Regions from separate parts of the Homo sapiens genome. Here region 1 is linked to region 2. Evidence: fine-mapped QTL for protein levels in blood plasma. A gene starts in region 2. The other region holds a variant in brackets. All regions are shown on one strand. Distances are between the middles of the regions.

What was found. A credible set is the group of variants that fine-mapping cannot tell apart. PIP is the posterior inclusion probability: the model's chance that the variant is causal. Protein levels are from antibody-based Olink assays in UK Biobank. Linkage for the fine-mapping came from a reference panel and not from the study's own genotypes, which makes the PIPs less certain.
Region 1: its variant is the best candidate, but not a certain one, in a credible set for the plasma level of the VWC2L protein (UK Biobank, PIP 0.68).

What each region holds. Positions count from the first base shown.
Region 1 is chr2:214,394,842-214,400,235 of GRCh38, forward strand. The region is part of intron 15 of SPAG16 (sperm associated antigen 16); the gene reads left to right. Among named protein-coding and RNA genes, the nearest start is that of VWC2L, 14 kb to the right of the region's middle. The variant G/A (reference allele first, on the strand shown) is at 2,197.
Region 2 is chr2:214,408,240-214,413,633 of GRCh38, forward strand. VWC2L (von Willebrand factor C domain containing 2 like) reads left to right here and starts at 2,815. Exons shown (of 4, transcript NM_001080500.4): 1 at 2,815-3,547. SPAG16 (sperm associated antigen 16) reads left to right here. Exons shown (of 16, transcript NM_024532.5): 16 at 1,901-2,262. The coding sequence ends at 2,076.

The sequences.
Region 1 (5,394 bases), 13 kb before region 2:
AAATCCTCTGTGCTCTGCCTATTCATCCCTACCTCCCCACAACTCCTGGCAGCCACAGATCTTTTTATTATCTCCATAGTTTTGCCTTATCCAACATGTCACATAATAAAAATCAGACAGTATGTAGCGTTGGCCGATTGGCTTCTTTCACTTAGTAGTATGCATTTATGTTTCCTCCATGCCTTTTCATGGCTTGTTAGCTCATTTCTTTTTATCACTGAAGAATATTCCATTGTCTGGATGTACCACGCTTTATTAATTCACTTACTGAAGGACATCTTGGTTGCTTTCAACTTTTGGCAATTATGAATGAAGCTTCTATAAACATTCTTGTACAAGTTTTTATGTGGACATAAGTTTCCACCTCTTTGGGTAAATACAAAGGAACACTATTGTGAAATAATTGGCAAGAGTATGTTTACTTTTGTAAGTAAACTGCTAAACCATCTTCCAAAGTAGCTGTAACATTTTGCATCCTCACCAGCAAGGAATGAATGTTCCTATTGCTCCACATTCTCACCAGCATTTGGTGTTATCAATGTTCTGGTGTATGTGGTACCTTACTGCTGTTTTAATTTGCATTTCCCTGATGACATATGATGTTAAGCCTCTTTTCATATGCTTATTCACCATCTGTCTATCTTCTTTGGTAAGGTTGTTTAAGGTATTTGACCCATTTTTAAATATTTTTATGGTAAGTTTTATTTTAGTTTCAATGTGCAGATTTGTGATATAGGTAAACTGCATGTGACAGGGGTTTGGTGTACAAAATAGTTCATCACCCAGGTAATAAGCATAGTACCCGATAGGTATTTTTTTCTGATCCTCTTCCTCCTCCCACCCTCCACCCTCAAGTAGGCCCTGGTGTCTATTTTTTTTTCCTTTTTGTGTCCTTGTGTTCTTATCATTTAGCTCTCACTTATAAGTGAGAACATGCAGTATTTGGTTTTCTGTTCCTGTGTTAGTTTGCTTAAGATAATGGCCTCCAGCTCCATCCATGTTGCTGCAAAGACATAATCTCATTCTTTGTTATGGCTGCATAGTATTCCATGGTATATATGTACCAATTTTTCTTTAACCAGTCTTCAGTTGATGGGATTTATGTTGATTCTGTGTCTTTGCTATTGTGAATAGTGCTGCAATGAACACACGTGTGCATGTGTCTTTATGGTAGAGTGATGAATATTCTTTTGGGTATATACCCAATAATGGGATTGCTGGGTTGAATAGTAATTCTGCTTCAAGTTCTTCTGCGACTCATCACACTGCTTTCCACAATGTTGGCCCATTTTTGAATTAGGTTGTTTTCTTATTCTTGAGTTTTAAGAGTTCTTTGTATAATTTGGATAATAGTCCTTTATGAGGTATGTCTTTTGCAAATATTTTGTACCAGGCTGTGGCTTGGCTTTTTGTTGTTTATTTTAATAAAGTCCTCCAGTTTGTTTTTTTAATGATTATATTTAGTATCTTCATTTATCACTCACTATTTTGCTCTGCAGTTGCTAAAAGTACTTAGACACATTGTATATATACCTAGTTTTAGAATACTTTGTGCTTCTCTGATAATTCAAAATTTTGAGTTCTATGTATAAGAAATGACTACATGGTAATAATGGTGATCTGTAATTAATATTTTTTAATGTTTTATTGTTTTTATTTTCCAAGCATACATAAAAGTGAAGAAAATAATCTAATAAGCCCCATTTGTCCACTACCCAGGTTTGACAACTGTTAATATTTTGACAGTTTTGTTTCATTGATCCCTTCTTCTTACATGTTCATGTGTTTTGTTCTTAAGATTCTGAATTCCCAAAGAATATATTTTTAAATTTAAATATTGACAACAGCAAAATAGTATGGTTTCTCAAAATGATTCCACAAAATAATTTTTATCTATTTGGTTGTTTATGTTCTTATATATTATTTTAAAAATGATTTCTTTAGAAATAACTGAAATATTTAGTATTCAGAACTTTTTATAGATCTACATCAAGATCTTTTGAACATGTGCAAAGTTGCCACTGAAACATAAAATGTATCATCTTTGATAAATAGCCCTTAAAAAAAGCACTTTTCTTTAGCTTTTTTCCTAAAAATACTGGGATTTACTAGGAAAGTATAAAAACTATACTGTATGTTTCTAATTTTAGAGTTTATAAAAATTTTATTCTGTTTAATATAATAAAATCCAGTGCA[G/A]CTTGCTGTAATTGTTGATTTTGGCAAGATACTCTAGTGTATGAATGCCACTGAGATATTAATAATCATAGTATCTAGTTAATGCAAAAAAGCTTGAATTTATATAAATTTTTTAATTTTCTTTTTTTTTTTTTTTTGAGATGGAGTCTCGCTCTGTCGCCAGGCTGGAATGCAGTGGTGCAATCTCGGCTCACTGCAACCTCCGCCTCCTGGATTCAAGCGATTCTCCTGCCTCAGCCTCCCAAGTAGCTGGGACTACATACAGGCATGCGCCACCATGCCCAGCTAATTTTTGTATTTTTAGTAGAGACGGGGTTTTGCCACGTTGGCCAGGATGGTCTCAATCTCCGGACCTCGTGATCTGCCCGCCTCGGCCTCCCAAAGTGCTGGGATTACAGGCGTGAGCCCCCGCGCCCGGCCATATTTTTAAATTTTCTAATGCAGATTGCTTGTCTTATAGGTGTTCAAATTTTTCTATTCCTTCGCAACTATAATTCCCACTTTACCCCTACCTTCCCTGCAGTTTATCCTTGGGAGTTTTTGCATTTAATAGCCTCACTGTAGATCAAGGGACCCCAAACATTGGCAGTCTATTTAACAAAATACTTGAGCTGATTTATTGATAAAACTAGATGCAATTTATTTGCATAAGAGTCTTTTAGGAGGCAAGAGGATAGATAGATAGTCAAATTAAAGACAATAGAAGGTAAAGCACAGTTTTCAAGGCCTACAATGTGGCTTATTATTTCTTTGTTTTCTTCTCTAATGCAAAAATTGGCTCTGAATTGCACATCTGGAATGACTATCTGAAGTAGAATTTTTTTAAATGCCTAGTGTCATTCCTCCTAAAATGACAGCATCTTGTTCTTCATTTGGGTAGTTCTCCGTATGCACTCTCACTTGTTCTGGTCAGCACTTAATCCTGGCCTGGTGAATTAGTAAATCACACCCTTCCGCCTGCCAGCCACATGATCCAAGCTAACCAATAAGGGAAAATTTTTACCCCTTATGAGACTGCTAGGCAATAGAGGTACTCTTTCCATGGAATTTGAATTTGGTAGGCCATGAGCCTGAACCCAGACTACCAAGTGGACAGAGTCTGCCTCAGTATGGATTTACACTGCTGGAATCAGAATATAGAGACAATGAAAGAAGGCATCCTAATAACATCATTCCAACCTCTTGATCCAGCCATTATTGGAGTCAGTTTATTTGAATTTCTGTGTGATAAATATATTTGTTAAACTTTAAAAAAATTTTTCCCTTTGCCACATTGAGTTGACTTTCCTTCACTTGCAACTGAAAATACCCTAATATTCCATTTATTCAGACAAGTCACACTCCATATTTTCTAATAATTGTACTTCCAACTTTGCCATTTTTATGCCTCCTGTATATAGCTAAATCATGCGTGCCTCATTACTTTAACTCCAAGTACTCATCAGTGCCCTTGATCTCAAATTGTCTACTAGCTTTCAGCAAAAGCCCATTTGATCCAAGTGGGCTAGCAGATGAAGAGGTTAACAGTGAGAAAGTATGATGGAGAGAGGCTGAATAAAGAACAAACTAATCACATGTTGCTTTAAATTTTCTATGAGATATAAAGCCAGGTCATCGGAATGTAATATTATAGAATGTTAGCTGAAATTTCCATAAAGATGCCTTCACAGAATTATTAGTTAATATAAATTTATTTAGCAGTTCATGTAGCAGCCAAATTAGCTTAACTTTCTGGCATAACTACTTTTGTTTCCCCTCAGGCTGCAGGATAGAGGAAATTTTATAGACATACTTGGTTGGCATCCTTGTTCAAATCCTAACTCTGTTATCTTAATGGAGGTCTTTCATGTCTCTATGATTCAATATCTTTCTCTGTAAAATGAAAATAATAATGTTGCCTTTGCATTTGATTGTAAGGATTCCATAATAAACAGATGTGAAATATTTGGGAAAAAGTGAGATAATAATTGTAAGCTAGTGGTTCTATCTTTTATTATCAAGCACTTCAAATTATTTAAAAGGAAACCTCCATTAGGTATTATGCCTGTGGGGCTTACTCAGGTAATATATAGTGACATATATAAAATTCAGAGCTAATCTATGATTTCAGAGAGTTTAATATTTTTTAATCATCCGATTATACTACATACTACATTTAAACTAATTAATTTAGCCATTCCCAGTTCATACAAGACCTTCGCATTTGATATTGCAGCCATTCTTTTGCTCTTGTGAGGAGGGTATCCATCTCAATTATAATTCTTTTATCACATATTTGCATATCTTTTTTTTACTATAACTATTAATGGTGTAGTGATGCTGATTTATCACTTAGCCTCTTTTACCTAACAATGTTGCCCTGAAGTAGGAAAGGATGAAGTTCTAAAATTAGGATGTAATTATTAACAATTCACCACCTGAACATTAACTAACAGAATCTGACAGTGGCTTTCCCCACAGACAAACCTCCACATTCAAGAAAGAGGATTCCTTTATAATGAAGTTAGTTCTGACACCAATGTACATTAAGAGAACAACTCCCAAAATATTATAACTCTGACTTTTAGAGTCTTAAAATGTAGTTATGGTTTCAGTAGTAAAATCTGAGCAATACTAAGGGTGGTTTTATTACTTTACAATAAGACAAAAATGATTAATTTCTTAATTAAATTTTTGATATTAAATATAAGCCCTTGGTTCCTTTGCCTATTTCTAAACAACAAAGAAGAATATATCATAGTCTATGATTTGCTATGAATTATGTTTTGTGATGGCTTATCGAATCCTCAGAACTGAACTGGAACTTGCATTTCCTCTGTTATCAGCAAAAGCTTTTCTGAAATGTTTGCAAAGCTCCAGATATATGGGGTTCCTGAATAAATATTATCCCAACACTGATCAGCTGCATAGGTGAAGACCAAGTTAGGAAATAGGTCTACAAGGATTTCTTAATGAAAGCAGGTGGCTGTTGATATTTTAAATAGATTCAATAATTAATTAGAACATTTTTAGGACTTTAGGTGCATTTCACAAGGGATTTCTGTAATATTCAGAAGGTAGCCCATGTAGGAAAGCACCTGGTTCAAGATCATCATTCATGCTCTCCTAATAGGGGGGAAATATTTTTAAAACTCCACACAGGCCAAAAGTTCTGTTCCTAGCAAGGTAGACTTAATTTTTTTGATATATTCACATGCT
Region 2 (5,394 bases):
TTTGTTTGGTTTCACAAATAGAAATCAGTGTTTACCCCACTTTTCAGCTGTTGTATAAAGACTACAAGAAAAAAAGTTATTTGGGAAAGTCACAAACAGCAATTGCCTATAGAGTGAGGTTGGAAGTGAAATCCATATGTAATGCCTCTGTCAGCAAAGACTTAGTAGAAAATGGTTTATAATAAATATTCACATCTGCTGCTTTGGACACTCTAATCCATCCTAAGGATCTTTGCTGTGTCAGGTTTTGTTCTAGATGAAGAAGCCCAGTAGTTATAAAGGTTTGCAAATAGGTTGTATTTATCATGGTTAGCTTTACTTTTATAACTTTTCTCTGTTTTAGAGGTATTCATGATGTTTGGGGGTAAAATTTGTGATTAAATATTTCACTATAGCTTTTATGGTGATATAATTCTAGAATTCTTATTATAAAATGGACCAATGCTATTTTCACAATATATCACTTACCTAAAATCTGTCAAGAAGGCATCATTGATAACAATGCTATGCTGGCTGTGGAAAGCAATGGCTAAAAGCCCAGGCTCTGGATTCGAAGTGCTGTGATTAAATGCTAGCTCCTTCTATACCTAGGGTGTCATTATGAGCAAGTTACTTCGCCTTTCCAAGCCTCTATTTCTTCACCTACATAGAGGAGGCATTTTTTACATAACAGATATTTAAGCATTTTTAAATAGTACTAACTATTTAAAATACAGATAAATAGTACTATTTAAAATATTAAATAGTTAATACTATTAATACTAACTAATATATTAAATAGTTAATACTGTTAGTACTATTTAAAATATTAGTTACTACTATTAGTACTAACTATTTAAAATATTAAATAGTTAATGCTATTTTCTTTATCATTAGATTACTGTAACGATCATTCAGAATTATCCATATCAAGCACTAAATATAAGGATCATACGGAATTATCCATATCAAGCACTAAATATAGTATCTATCACATTAAAAGAGTTTAATAAATTTTAAATGTTATTACTGAAACAATAATATGCCTTCTAAGTATGATTAAATAATCCCATGGATAGTACTAATGTCATACTTATTTACACTAAGTACTGAGCTTATGTAAACATATCCTATTGTTTTACTTAACTCCAAGTCCCATGATAGTTTGTTACTGGACTTCCTTAATAAAAATATTAATTAAAATTGGATCCCTGATTTGTTTTCACTTTGAGGAAATGAGCCACTAAAAAATATATGATACAAAAATTATGCAAATACCCTGTGCTGTATTTAGCCATCTTATGTAAAAAAAATTTAATTTATCAAAATTTGAATTCTAAGCTAGAGTAAAAACTCTCAAGTCATTTTGAAATGGAAGTATTTATTTCCACTTCAGCTTCAAAAAAATTTGTTGAGTTCATGAGTATCACAATTTTTAAAGCAGGAATGTATATTGAGTTGTAAGTAATGATTAGCATAATTATTATAAATAAGTTTAAAGAAGAATACAAATGTTTTCCATAAATTTTGAAAGCTATGCCTTTTAAAACTTTCTAACATATAATTTATTTGAAAAAGAAAGTTGCCTTGCATAGTTGCTTTCAATCTCATCTCCTCGAAATGCTTTATTAATCACAAATATAAAAGAATAGTAGGATGTTTGATGAAATCTGCATATAAAGGAGGTAGACCATTAGGCTCTATGTCCCAATTAGAAAATTTTATAACCTAATTATTGATGTGTCTTAATTTTGACTCAACTTATTTCTTATACCTACAGGAGCTACTGCATATTTAATAACTGACCCCTAACACAGAATGATAATTGAAAAAAATAGAATGCTTCATTGCTTATAAACTGTGAACACTTGAAATAAAACTTTGATTCATTCTCTCTCTCTCTCCTCTCTGTCTCCCTCAGGTCGAGTTTTAGCTCAGGCAAGTGGCAATGGTGTTATCCATTTGCTAGATCTTAAATCTGGGGAGATTCACAAATTGATGGGCCACGAAAACGAGGCACACACGGTTGTGTTTTCTCACGACGGGGAGATTCTCTTTTCTGGAGGCTCTGACGGCACAGTTCGAACGTGGTCTTGACCGTCAGCACATCCCGCTGCAGAGGGCATTCCCTTTAAGGCTTGAAAATGCCTCCTGTAGTCCCAAACCAGCAAAGAACTGGTTAAATGTGCCAGCAGGTAACATTTACAGTCTGCTTTAAAACATGCTTTGGACATATATTTTAGTGCTCATACTGTTACTAATAAAAAAATAACTTTATGCTCACCCATTTGTGTCAGGGTCTTTTTTCTCTCTCATTTTGATAAGAATTTAGAGACACGGCATCTTTGCTAGGGGTTTTGAAAGAAACAGCTTTACAATGACGCCTAATGACAGACTAGATGAATTACAGGAGATTGATTTTTAATGTTAGAGAACAAACTGCAGGAAAACCTGGCTACTTTAAAAAAAAAAAAAAAAAATCAGATCCAAGCTGCAGGAAGACCTGAAGTTTAATCATGCAGCACCAGGGAAGTCTTTCTGCCACCAAAGGGTCAAATAGAATCGACAAGCATACGTTTTCACAGATTGTTTGACAATGATTATGCTTTATCTATTAATAATAATTGGGGACTGCAGATGGCTTAAATCTAAATGCAAGCCTCTTCTGGAACTTTCATCTCTGCAGCCCATCCAAGAACGCGTTAGGTATACAATTTTATACAAAAAAAATTAATTGCAATTTCAATGCAAATAAATATCTCGCACGTAGAATGTCTTTACCCCTCCTAATGCGCGCATCCGCTGTATAAAGTGCGACTGCTTGGAGAGCACTCTAGCCTCGTCTAAAGCAGCTCTGGGATTTCGACAGAGCTGGGCTCAGAAGCCAGTTGTTGGCGCTGTCCGTGGTGCTGAGGAATTCCCGGCTGCCGGCAGAATGAGCTCCAAATCAGCAATCTGCAAACTGCTCTTACTGATGCAGAAACCCAGCTAAAGTTGCTCCTTTCCTTCACATCCACAGTTAGTATTTTCCGGTGTGTAAGAGGGGATTCAAGCAACACACTGTGGACGATGGTGATGGTATTGCCAGCGGAGTGGGCTTTAAGCTACAGCATGCTGTTGCTGTTTGTGATCCTCAGAGCCTAGCCAAATCACCTCTACTGCCGTAGCAAACACTGTGTAAGTGAACTCATGTGTGGAGGAGGCGTAATCAGCCGGGAAATTTCATAGAAGGATCTAAGAAAATGCTAAAAATAAGTTCAACATGATTCTGCTACTGGGGTCTGGATTTCTACAGGACCAGCTTTGCTTCTTGCTTTGAATTCTGAAGACAGGTCCAAAGCAAATTTCTTATATGTGTCTGCTGTGTTTCTTTCTGGAAGGGCGGGAGACTGCTTCTTTACTGTGTTTTGAAATGGGAGGTAGAGAGAATGGATTGCCTTTAATTCATGCCTAAAAAATGTATTCTTTGGGTAATTAAAGAGGAACTGCTTTCTTAAAACATACCTGACCTTTTAGTTCATTTTGGGCTGTGACCCCTACCACCACCATTAACCTCCAGAGTGATTAGGTAAGTGTATCTTATGACATGAATTATGTTTGTTTTCTCAAAGAAATAGATGCAGTCATTTTAAATCATCTGTAGCAATATGGGGAGGGGGGGAAAATTAAGCTGGGAAGTGATCCTCAGTTTAGCAGTGTTTGCTTTCTTTTTAAAAATCTTCAGATAAACATTACATTTGATTTATCCCATGTTTCTTCTCTTAAATAGTATCTTAAATTGTACTAGGGCAGCTCAATTATGAAGGCTTTTTTTTAAAAAAAAAATAGCCTAAGAACTTTGTTATATTGAAAATAAAATCTTGTTTTTTACCATGCAGATTTTAAGATATATTTCATATAATAAAAACATATTTAATGTTTATATAAAGTAGATATTACATTCCTATTTTTACCTCTAAGTTTACATTTACCATAACCTAACACATTAATGCCTACCTGTGGCTTACAAAGAGATCATTTTCTGCCTATGTCCCTTTGAAGCAGAATCATATGTGTATTTTATATGGCTTATCTTGCATGCATTGACAGATATTGCTGGAATATTATAAGGAAGCACAGTAGCTTTCTTTTCCTCCAAGATAAACTTTCTAAATATGTGATGTATAAATGCTTGCTTTAATTAGTAAATTATATTTATGCTTTTTCAGAAGCTTCTGTTATGTTTGTTATCTCTGTAGTAATTTGAGAGAAAAAAATGCTTTGTCAAAGGGAGCTTCCAGATTCTCAAGTAGAATTATAGGTTTGCATTTTCTTGTTCTGTCATGACTTATTATTTTTGACATATTTTATAAGAAATCATCGGCTTTATTACCTACCCAAAGGGAATTCTAATATCAGAGGATATCAGAGTAATTCTGATATCAGCTTTCTCCAGAAAGAGGGCATACTACCTTCCATTTTACTATTACTAGAACTTGTATATCTACCTTAAAATGCAAATATAATAGTTTATGAAGTTTCCTAATGTCATCTTTATCTTGTTATCGTCTGTATATGTTAGACTGAAAAGAGATGGTTTATCATTGCTCTTAATATAATCTGAAAATAAACCAATGTATAACATTTATAACTGACCTGAAAATGTCCTGTATACCATCTTAGTGTTATTGGCATGAAGCCAATAGCATTTAAATAAAAAAATGAGCTATTTGACAATACTTTTTCTTATTTATTACTCCCTAAAGTCACAGTCTCCCCAGAGCCTCTGTGTGATTTAGTTATTCTAAATATTTAAATAAGAGCCCACTCCCAACACTTCACATCAAGCACCAATACTAAGTGGAGTTTACAAGAGTCAGTGTCACAAAATTAATAAGGCATATTTTCTATGAATGGTTAACACTTAATTACAGTTTTAAGCAACTTCCATAAAGAATTTTATGCTGGCATCTTTGTGCAGATTTTGTACATGTAAATATTTTTGACATTTCAAGAGTTATGTTTTCAAGATCTCATAAATTGTATTTATATTATATTGCAAATTTTAATTTAAATAATATTACATATATACTAGATTCAAGTTACTGTGAAGTAAATTTATAGATAGATCTTTCCTGCCCACTAGGAGCTTCCTTCCTATGTAAAATAATGTGGACAATAATACAAATAAATTTGTTTTTAACAAACTCTTTTAAGCACATGGAATTCTCTTGTATTATTTATTATTTCAAATTTTCTTTCTCTTAATCACTATGGAATAGTTATGTTGTTTTTGTTATCAACTTTATTTCAAAAATCCAGACTCACATTCACTTAAACAGGTAACTGATGTTGACGCCATTGTTGTTCTTTAATTATGGGCATAAATAAGTAGGAAATCCTTTATAGTAGCTCCTTCCTAAATATAATTTATAT